Homo sapiens: one gene and its partners. The protein of the gene in region 1 interacts with the protein of each later gene in a biochemical or structural test. Each region holds a gene or a part of one and is shown in the gene's direction. Other genes may lie near its edges.

Region 1 (3,648 bases):
TGGGCTGCTTCCGGGCAGTGCTGAGTGTGGAGCTGGACCCTGTGGTGAGCTGGGGTCTGGGCCAGGCGGGGTGGGGGGCTTCCACAGCCTCCTGCCCCTCACACTTCTCCCTCCTCCCCCTCCACACAGGAGGGGCGGCTGTTGGACAAGGAGAGCTCCAAGTGGCGGTTGCGGGGCCAGCCCACCGTCCTCCTCACACTGGCCCACATCTTCCATCACTTTGCACCGCTTCTGGTGAGCGGCATTGGGAGGGGCATGGGAGGGGAGGAGACAGGCCATGCTAGACACGCCCGTGGTAGATGTGCCCTCACTGAGGGCTGCAGTGCTGAGGTCCCACAGCATCACCTGGCGAGGGCCCCATGTGACCAGGGCCCTCAGACCTCAGTCAGTCCCCTAGGGAAACAGGGACATTGCCAACCAAGGGCATCAGGGGATGTCCTGGAAAGAAGACTGAAGGATAATAACATCCCAGGCCAAGGAAACTGCGTGTGCCAAGCCTTAGAGGAGCCGTGGGGCAATGGCCTTCTTGTCCCTCAGTCAGACCCCGGAAGGGGTCATCTATGTTTGGTGTTGCTCGAGTGGCTCAAGGCTCTGTGCCTGAGGCTTGTGCCTTGGCCATGTGCCAGGGCAGGGGTGCCTTGACCAGAGTGGAAGGCCACCACCTCACCAGTGCCTGGCCTTGGTGCAGCGCAAGGTGTATCTGGTGGAGGCTGTGCTCATGAGCTTCTTGCTGGGCATCGTGGAGAAGGGCACACCCACACAGGCACAGTCCGTGGTGCACCAGGTCCTGGACCTCTTGTGGCTCTTCATGGAGGTGAGGCTCCTGACCTCAGGCCTCAGGCCTGGCTGTCAGTCTTCACTGGGGTCGGGAAGATACGGGGAGAATCTTGGAAAAGGCCCCAGTCATGGCTGCCTTGGCATCTCTTCCCCCAGGACTACGAGGTACAAGATTGCCTCAAGCAGTTGATGATGTCTCTGCTTCGGCTGTACCGATTCTCACCCATTGTCCCAGACCTGGGCCTACAGGTGGGAGCCCCTACCCCTGCCCTGAGCCCCCTGGGACTCGCCTGTCCACTCTGAACGCCCCCTCTCCACAGATCCATTACCTGCGGCTCACTATCGCCATCCTGAGGCATGAGAAGTCCCGCAAGTTTCTGCTTAGCAATGTCCTGTATCCTTTCCTTGCTGCCTGGCAGGCCAGACATGGGGTGCCCTCTGGACTCAGCAGAGGCCAGGAAGGGGAGTGTCATCAGGCCAGGGGTCCCCTGGGAGCATCAGGAGGACCAGAGCTGCCCAACGTGGCATTTTCTCTACAGAGCAAGGACGAGAGAGCAAAGGACTGAGCCTGGCCAGCCAGCCTAGCCAGGGGGTTCTGAATGACTGCAGACTCGGGCTACGCAGAGGTGTGGGAGGGGCCACAGGGCCTGCCCTCTTCGGCCACAGCCCAGCACTTTTGTTCATGTTCCACAGTGGGGATTCCTGCAAGATCTTTAAGGAGGCAGCTCTTCCTGCTTCCCAGAATTGTTGGGAACTGCATGAGTGAGTGAGAGCATAGCTTTGAGCCCCTGGCTGGGAAGCCTCAGCTTGTAGCCGTTTTCTTGGTCTGGGGTCTTCCAGCCTCCAGGAGGCAGACACAAAGCTGGGAGACACAGAGGTCAGAGTTGGGGCCTGAGAAAAGGCCACCAGTCCCTCTCTCCAGCTTGTCCCACAGTCATCTGTTCCTGTGACAAGCCCTTATCGTGCACCTGCTGGGTACTGGAGCTGGTGGGCTTAACCACCACAGCTTTTTGTCAGGGAGCATGCCCTGGGGGTCAGACACATAGCAGCAACATGCCCCTGTGGTGGTGGGAGAGCTGTGGTAGGCACATCCAGGGATGGGCTCCTGGGGAAGGACTCTTGAGGGTGTGCAGAGTGCCCTTTGGCAAGCAGAGCCCTGCCTTGACACCCGCCAGCTTCGACGTGCTCCGCTCCGTCGTCTTCTTTTACATCAAGAGCCCCCTGCGTGTGGAGGAGGCCGGCCTGCAGGAGCTCATTCCCACCACCTGGTGGCCCCACTGCTCCAGTAGGGAGGTGAGTGCACCCCAAGTGGGATGGGCAGAGGTCATGGCAAGGCCCCTGGCCTGGGCATCTGGCCACTGGGCATCTAGCATGAGGCCTTTTCACTGGCCCTGGTCCCTGAAGCCCTGGAGATGGAGTGTGGGTGTTCTGAGTGAAGGAGGCCTGGCTAGGTCCCAGGTGACCCTGCTGTATTCCACCTGCTACCCCTGCCTAGGGCAAAGAGAGCACGGAGATGAAGGAGGAGACCGCAGAGGAGCGGCTGCGGCGGCGAGCCTACGAACGGGGCTGTCAGCGGCTCAGGAAGCGCATCGAAGGTCAGCCCGCCTTGGGCACGGGGTAGGGTGGGAGGTGTGTGTGTGCACATGAGGGTGCTTGGAGGTGCCCATGTCTAGGTGGGACTTGGGGAACCCTGGTGGTGGAGCCCTGGCCCAAACCTGCCCCCCATCTCCTGGAGCCTGAGGGCCATGTTCCTCACCTGACCTCCAGTGGTGGAAGAACTACAGGTCCAGATCCTGAAGCTGCTGCTGGACAATAAAGATGACAATGGGGTGAGTGACTCCCAGGAGCCCTGGGTGGGGCCCTGTGGGGAGGGATGCTGCACTGGGCCTTAAGACCCAGAGGGTGGGAACTGGGTTTGGTTCCCATGGCAGGGGCTGGGGGAAGGTGCAGCACTGAGCCAGCCCAGTCTGGGCCTGCATTCTCAGCTCAGCACAGCCTCACTTTTCCCTCTCTCAAAGGGTGAAGCTTCTAGGTATATCTTCCTGACCAAGTTTCGCAAGTTTCTGCAGGAGAACGCCAGTGGCCGGGGGGTAGGTGTCCTCCAGGCCAGCCCACTGTGGATCCCCGGCTGCACTACACATGCCATGCCCTCAGCACCTGGCACTTCTCGGACTGCCTCATCCCTGCCTAGCCCCAAGCTTTTCTCTGCTGCTTTTCCCTCCCTGCTTAACCCTCGACCCTCAGGCAGGGCCTTGGATGAGGAATGGGCAAGGCACTGGACTGGCACCAATGCATGTTTCATGCCTGGTGTCCACAGAACATGCCCATGCTCTGCCCCCCTGAGTACATGGTCTGCTTCTTACACCGGCTGATCTCTGCCCTGCGCTACTATTGGGATGAATACAAGGCTTCCAATCCTCATGCTTCCTTCAGTGAGGGTGAGTGGCACCGGGGTCCCAGGTCAGTGAGGCTGGACAGAGCCAGGCGTAGGGCAGCCCCTAATGTTAGTGCAGAGTGCTGAGCTGAGGCTGTGGGCTGTGGGGAGTTGTCCCCGGCATCCTGCCTGGTTGAGTCCTACCCAGCCACAGGCGGCTTCTCCACTGGGGCAGCAGGAGCCCTGCACCGCAGGCCTGCCGATCCTGTGTTTGCTCTGATTGTCCCACGGGCTCCTACCATTGTGGGCTCTTTTCTTCCGTCCTTGCCCCCCCATTTCTCTGTGCGTCCTTTATAGGGCTGCCTTGGGTGGGTGCTGGGGGGCCCTGTGTTTGAGTCCCCAAGGGTCAGTGGGAGCCTTACCTGCCCTGGATTGGGGGATATCCCACAGGACTGGGGCTGGGCCTCTCTGCTTCTCCTGAGTGAACGGCTGCCATG
Region 2 (3,648 bases), on another chromosome or scaffold:
TTCTTGGGCAGAGCTCCGCTGATTCAGTTGTCATCGTCTTTTTGCTGCTCTTACGTTCACCTCAGACTTTCTGATTACGTTTCTGTGTAGAAAAAACAAGACCAGAAAGCTCCAGATAAAGAGGCCATACTGCGGGCCACCGCCAACCTGCCCTCCTACAACATGGACCGGGCCGCGGTCCAGACCAACATGAGAGACGTGAGTGTCAGCCCAGAGCGGCGGCGGGTGCATGGGGTCCCCGTGTGGGGGATTGCTGTGGGGGGGTTCCTGCGGGGCGGGGCAGCAAGAGGAGATTCTCTGGGAGGATTTGGGGAAGCCGGTGAGCGGGTCTGTAGGACTGCACTATTTTGCATTTTTTCTGTAAATCAAAAATTATTTCCAAGTAAGAGTTGGAAAGCCATCTGAAGGCAGGATTGAAAAGATAGATACCCCTGGGAAAACGTCAATCCGGCCCTGAGTTTGGCAAAACGTTTAGATAGAATTCTGAACCCGAAGCGGGTGGATCACCTGAGGTCAGAAGTTCGAGACCAGCCTGGCCAACATGATGAAACTCCGTCTCTACTAAAAATACCAAAAATTAGCCGGGCGTAGTGGCAGGCACCTGTAATCCCAGCTATTCAGGAGGCTGAGACAGGAGAATCACTTGAACCCGGGAGGCGGAGGTTGCAGTAAGCCGAGATTGCATCATCGTACTCCAGCCTCGGCAGCAAGAGCGAAACTCCGTCTCAAGAAAAAAAAAAACACACAAATCTGAACCCGTGAGTTATTTTGGGTCAGAACATTCTAAGTTAAAAAAGAAAAGTGTTTGCAGTGCTCACGTGGACGCCGCAGCAGGCAGGGCAGGCACGTGCTGTGCCGGGGTGGGAGGACGGCTGGCTTCCAACTTCATCTGATGCCAGTCCAACCTAAGGGCACTGCTATAAGCCCTGTTTCATTTTAGGAATGAACCTCTTGGGGTGTCTTCCAGAGAGTTCTGTGCTGACCAGGGCATGGTGGCTTTTCCCCAGCAGCCAGCATGTGTGTCTCCCATCCTGTGTGTGTCCGGCTCAGAGGTATTTCTCTAGTGTGGTGTCCGCACCAAGGCTCACACTTGTGTGAGAGTAGGGACAGCTGACGCCTGACCTCTAGGCCCTGTAGCCAGGAGCTGTTCTGGAGGGCATCTCCGGTCCATCCCACGGCTCCTCCTGCCTGGGGAGGACAGTGATGGCCGCCGCAGACGCTGTGTGGCAGCCATGCCTCCACTGGGGGCTGGCAGACTCATGGGGGTGGAGCCTCAGATGATTCTGTTTTCTTCAGTGAAGCCAGAGAGGGTCTTCAGCTTGCCCTGCACCTGCGCCAGCTGGGCCGACGGTTTCCTCACAGGGCACAGGCTGAGTATCGGGCCAGCACTGAGTGACCGTCACCAGGCGTTCCTGTCCCTTTCCACTGGCTTCAGTCCCACCTGCAGGGAGGCTCTTGGCCCTGCCAATCCCCTGCCTTGCCCTCAGCTGATCCTGCTGTCTTGCAAGAAAGCAATGTCATCTCAACTCTCAGAATCAAGAGTTCTAGGACAGGGGAGCAAGTCATAGATCCAAGTAGGTTTGGTGGACATTTAGAGAATTGATCTCCTTTTTTTTCACCACAGTTCCAGACAGAACTCCGGAAGATACTGGTGTCTCTCATCGAGGTGGCGCAGAAGCTGTTAGCGCTGAACCCAGATGCAGTGGAATTGTTTAAGAAGGCGAATGGTATGAGTCAACCCCGATGCTGCATTCCAGGGCGGTTCACTGCCGGCCTTGGGGAGCGTCTGCAGCTCCACGCACTGACCACTGACCGGAACCTCAGTGCTTTATGGAAGCGCTGATGAGGGCCTGGGGCCTGCCTCACCGGCAACTCCTGTTGATGTGCCTGAGGGCGGGCAGGTGGAGCTCAGACAGATAATTGCTGCAAATGTTTGTGCTCAGATAAGGCCCCTGAACCTGAGGCTGGAGCCCTCATGGCCCTGTCGTCTCCCTGCAGCAATGCTGGACGAGGACGAGGATGAGCGTGTGGACGAGGCTGCCCTGCGGCAGCTCACGGAGATGGGCTTTCCGGAGAACAGAGCCACCAAGGCCCTTCAGCTGAACCAGTGCGTGGGGGGCCACCTCCTTCCCTTGCCGGAGACACCTGGGGCCTGGTTTTGTGGGGCTCCCACCGTGGGTGACGTCCTCCTACCCTAAACTCTTTGACTGAATCATTTCTAACGTGGGGTTTTGAAGAGGTACCTTAAATATGTGCCTCCAAAGTGTTTTTGGGGTGAATGTGACAGAACAGTCGTTGTGTAAATTCTCTTTGGGCCGTTGTATGAGAACTCAAGGTGAATCCCGTTCGTAGCAGGGACACGGCCTCTAACAGTCTTCTCAGGATTCCCGTGTGAGTTACTTGCCCTGCTTCTGTGTTCAGATCTAAAATGAATAATCCGAGATCCAGGGGCAGCCGGGGGCAGTTCCCCCTGTGGTCCCTATCTAAGCCCTCAGCAGATATCTCTGGGTCCGCTTGCCTCTCCTTAGACATGGGCTTCTGATTCTGCCCAGGGTCTCAAGGTAGTCTGAGGCAAGGACCAGCGCTTCCGTCGCACCTGTGTTCATTCAGGTTCTTGTTATAAGGGTCACCAGCTGATGCTGGAGAAGTCACTACCATAGCAGAGGCTCTTCTTGGGAATGGACAGGAGGCGAAGGCCCTGGTCCGTTAGTCTGGGGATGTTGGAAAGAGTCTCTTGCCTTGCAGCATGTCGGTGCCTCAGGCCATGGAGTGGCTAATTGAACACGCAGAAGACCCGACCATAGACACGCCTCTTCCTGGCCAAGCTCCCCCAGAGGCCGAGGGGGCCACAGCAGCTGCCTCCGAGGCTGCCGCGGGAGCCAGCGCCACCGATGAGGAGGCCAGAGATGAGCTGACGGAAATCTTCAAGAAGATCCGGAGGAAAAGGGAGTTTCGGGCTGATGCTCGGGTATGTGTTACTAGACCTGTCGCCAGGCAGAGTCGCTGTGTCTTCCCTTGAGGTGGCGCCATGGAAAGGAAGCTGGGGCTGCATGGCTGACCTTGGGCTGAGCTGGCTCCTGTCCCAGGAGAGAGAGAAGCTGGGGAAGGGGTTTACAGGTGGGCCTGGGAAATGGCGAGCCTGGGGGCGGTGGGCCTGGGGACCGTGGCCCGAGTTTCTGAGCACACCTGTAAGTTATCCTGGCTTGAATCCAGGCGCCCCAGTTTCCTCTGTGTTGCCACATTCGTCACCTTTTGAAAAACTTGATATTTTACAGTTCCTTCTGACCACTCATCCACAAGCCCCCCCTGTTCGGCAGCCTCTCTGCGGGGTGGGGGCCCTGCCCAGAGACCGGGAGGGTCATTTGCCGTCGGGGGTGTCCATGAGCGAGGGGCCGCTCAGGCTGCCAGCCGCCTCCATGGCACAGTCTGCAGGGCTGAAGGGTCCCTGCGCCTGTGTGTGTGGACCTTCCTCGCCCGCGCCTCATCTCCCCATTCTTCCTTCTCTCTCCTGTTCTTTGATTCGGGTTTTACTTCCTCCTTGGAGGTTTCTGTCTGTCTCCGACATGCTCAGATGGCAGATCTGCTCCATCTGCATGCTGTCGTCTCGTGTGGCACTGATCGTTTCCTTGGGGTGTGTGACATTGTGCT
Region 3 (3,648 bases), on another chromosome or scaffold:
AATACTATACCATATTTCAGTGTTAGGGCACACCTATCCCTCTTTATCCCAGACGTCAATTCTACCATATAACAAGTATGTAAAAAAGAAAACATAAAAGTGATGACAGACTCCCTAATCAACCTATTTATTGGTTCTAAGCCCAAGCCTGCAGTTCATTTAAATAGTGAAAATAGATTACTTAATTGTCTTAGAAAATATGTCTTCCATGACAAGAATTTTAGGAATGAGAAAATAACTATTTTTGGATGTTTTAACACAAATTCCCAAATCATGTTTTATTGATATTTGAAGAACCTCTTTGTCTACCAGTTCTTAAGTATAGGCTTATTTTGTAAGGCTTAAACATGTATTGGTGTTTGACTGTTAAGACTTGATCTATAACCTTCAGTGTCTTTTTCTTTTAAATGGGGTATGGACTTGGTAATGAGGCCAGAGGAGAATACCTTACAATTTATAGCATCTGCATATAATACAAGAACCTTCATGATTTATAAAATTAAAATGATGATGATGTGGAATGATGGAAGAAGCATGTGTGGGTGGCTATTTATGTAGAGGAAATTAGAAGTTGAAAGCAATGTTAAGAATTAAAATTAAATTACACTTAATTTTTTGCTCAGTTGGATAGTCAGGAAAGTACTTAAATCAGCAATTGATTTACGTAAAATCAAAACTGAAAACTGAATATACAATCTAGGAAATAGGAAAAAAATTTTTAGTGTGTTCATACTGCTAATTTCAAACCAAGCAAAAAACCTGGGGAACTACTTTTCAGAGGAGATGGCTTAAAATGAACCAAAAATATAGCCATTTCTCTACCCTATTCATTTAATGCATTCATTTATTATACTGCTAATACATGATAAGGTGAATAGGTTAAGCATCGTTTGTATATGTGTATGTGATTTTAAACCTGAGTCTTTTGAAAGATTGGTCAAAGCAAAGGATAATGAAAGCATAAAGATTTAGGGGGAAGAGTCCTCTATAAAACTAAGACTTAAACTTTGTTATCAACTTGAATGTGAAGATAGAATAATCTAGAAAGTGAATGAGAATTATAAATAAAAGGACAAATCATATATCTCATGGTTGAGAAATACAATGAGATAAATTGTATATCTCATCTCATGGAGGGTCATAATGAAAGAAGTAAGAGAGATTGCCCTTGGATAGAACCTTTCGGCAGACATTTCATAATGGATTATCATATTTTTGCTAAACTGGTAAGAATGGACTTTTCACCACATTATGAAAAAACACTTTAGAAGTCAGTTGCGATCAAGCAAATATAAGTACCTGGGAAATTAAAATCAAAAGCACAGCAGTCCAACAATAGTCAAATGCATTTACTCACTCTCATACCATATCATAGCGTTAATTTGAGATAATGTCTTTATGGTGTCTCTTTATATATTTACTCGATTTCCCATTTAAGACATTTAACCAAATTTAAAAAGCAATCCTTAGAAACTTTAAAAATATTTCCTATTTTAAACCATTACATAATCATTTACCCTGCAGTTACAATTCTTTTTTTGTGATGGGTGGGGAAGTATCCCATTTCTCTTAGAAAGTCTTCTGTAATAGCCAAATAGGAGTCAATCCAAGTTGCTTAGAGAGGTAGTTCAATCCTGTGTTGAAATAGATGACTTTTGGAGTAATTGTGCTATATTTACTGAGTATCTGTTGAACTGTAGGAGTCCAGTCATTCAAGGCAAGCTACAGAAATGATTTTATTGCTGAGGCACTTAAGTATCTTCACATCTATATGCCAATATTAAATTTCTCATCATCCTTGATCCCCACCCCTTTGCACAGATTGGTATCCCCAGCACATTAGGGAATGCGGTTGTTAGCCTGTTAGGGTCCATTCAGTAGATTTCTCATGCCAGAAATCTAGAAGCCCTTCTTATACATTCAGCTTTCTTCTTCAGTCAGTCACCAAGTTCTATCAAGGCAGCCTCCTCATCTCCAGAATCCATCCCTTCCTCGTTGAATTTCTAGATTTTATTTTTGCATTGTCTCCTGCTTCTAACCCATCGTTCATTTCGCATAATGGTCAGCTTTCTAAAGTGTAAATCGGATCATGTCTCTGCAGTGAATCCCAGTTGTCTTCACAAGCTGATTCTCGCACACCTCACCCCCTTACTCCCTCCGGTGTTCCCCAACCATCCCCTAATCTCAAATCCTCCACACCGACTTTCAGTTTCCTATCCACAGTTTCTGACTTTGAATGCCTTTGCTTATGCCCTCCCTGTATGAGAAGTGCCTTTTCTTTCCTAGCCATCCTGCTAACTTCTAAACCCTTAGGCCTGGTTTGAGCATCACCATTTCTCTCACTTGCCTTTCTGTTTTCTCCCTCCCCTTTCCATAAAGAGTTATGTGCCCCCATTCTGTGTTCTCCTGAATTCCTGTGGGTCCTAGAAAAGAAACATCTTGAGGGCAAGGAGTTCATCTTATTTACTTTTTATTTGCACAGCACCTGGTGTGTTTGCTGAATAAGTAAATACCGAACAAGATATCAAGAGACAGTGCTGCCAATTAACTGTGTGGCTCTGAGCAAGTTAATTAACTTCTCTGAGTCTTATTTTTGTTCTGTAAAAAAAATGAGGTTTGACAAAATGAGCATCTCTCTCTAAAATTATGTGTTTCTTTGATGTAATTGTATTAATTGGAAGACTTCAGATTTTCTTGCCATATCAAGATAGGTCAACTTAAGAAAAATGCATGTGAGTAAGTACCAAGCCAATTCTTGATTATCAGTATGATAATATGAGGAACTGCCCATTTTGTCGATAATAAGTTATAATTTTTGGTCTCAGTGTAGGTTCTTTCTCAAATCCAGATGTTTCTGGTGTTGCATTTTTTCATTATTATTCAGTCTCTCGCATTCATATTTCTCCAAAGAAATTTATGGAAAACTTGAGACAAAAATTGAATGTAAAGTTTAATATTTAAATGCTAGATTGATTCAAGGTCTCACTAATTATAACTATATTTGGAGGGAGAAGAAGGGGAGGTGGTGGTAGTATGAGCTGAATCCTCCTCTGTTCCTTCCTAGAAGGAACACAACGTCCTACATCAAGAAAAAAGACAGAAGCATATCTTGGAGATATGAAAAGAACCACCAGGTAAACTAAAAAGAAAAAGAGTGTTAAAAAGTCAGCCTTTAAAAAGCAGGATTGGAGATGAGGAGGGGTGGAGTAGGGGAAGCATTGCTTGTTTATAGAAGCTCTTCCATCTTCGTATAGTGTGATTTTTATTTTTTTATTATTTTTTCCTTCCTTTTTTTTGACCTCCAGCTTTAGTATAGTACAGTTGACAGAAATTATATATGTTTATGGTACACAAGATGATGTTTTGATATACATATGCATTGTGAAATGATTAAATCAAGCTGATTAACATAAGTAGGGTTTTATTTCTTTAACAGTGATTTATTTGAATATATGTTGAGTCCTTTCTATGTGCCAGACACAGTTCTAAGGACAAGGCACACAGTGCCAAACAAGACAGAAATCCAGAAATTCATGGAGCTTAAATCATGTAGTCTTTTCAGTTTTTAAAATTTTCTTGCTGGGCGTAGTGGCTCATATCTGTAATCCCAGTACTTCAGGAGGCCGAGAAGGGAGGATTGCTTAAACC

What was found.
Region 2: the proteins of RNF123 (region 1) and UBAC1 form a complex in vitro, tested with the Homo sapiens proteins (one study listed by BioGRID).
Region 3: of the proteins of RNF123 (region 1) and NFKB1, one has a biochemical effect on the other in vitro, tested with the Homo sapiens proteins (one study listed by BioGRID).

What each region holds. Positions count from the first base shown.
Region 1 is NC_000003.12:49,699,539-49,703,186, forward strand, and holds part of RNF123 (E3 ubiquitin-protein ligase RNF123), read left to right. Parts: coding exon 1-44; intron 45-129; coding exon 130-234; intron 235-688; coding exon 689-814; intron 815-933; coding exon 934-1,026; intron 1,027-1,097; coding exon 1,098-1,171; intron 1,172-1,952; coding exon 1,953-2,070; intron 2,071-2,272; coding exon 2,273-2,372; intron 2,373-2,544; coding exon 2,545-2,606; intron 2,607-2,795; coding exon 2,796-2,867; intron 2,868-3,094; coding exon 3,095-3,215; intron 3,216-3,648. UniProt on the Homo sapiens protein: Catalytic subunit of the KPC complex that acts as E3 ubiquitin-protein ligase. Promotes the ubiquitination and proteasome-mediated degradation of CDKN1B which is the cyclin-dependent kinase inhibitor at the G0-G1 transition of the cell cycle.
Region 2 is NC_000009.12:135,944,348-135,947,995, reverse strand, and holds part of UBAC1 (ubiquitin-associated domain-containing protein 1), read left to right. Parts: intron 1-90; coding exon 91-198; intron 199-1,624; coding exon 1,625-1,727; intron 1,728-1,998; coding exon 1,999-2,107; intron 2,108-2,745; coding exon 2,746-2,968; intron 2,969-3,648.
Region 3 is NC_000004.12:102,507,816-102,511,463, forward strand, and holds part of NFKB1 (nuclear factor NF-kappa-B p105 subunit), read left to right. Parts: intron 1-3,064; exon of another isoform or gene 3,065-3,117; coding exon of another isoform or gene 3,118-3,134; intron 3,135-3,648.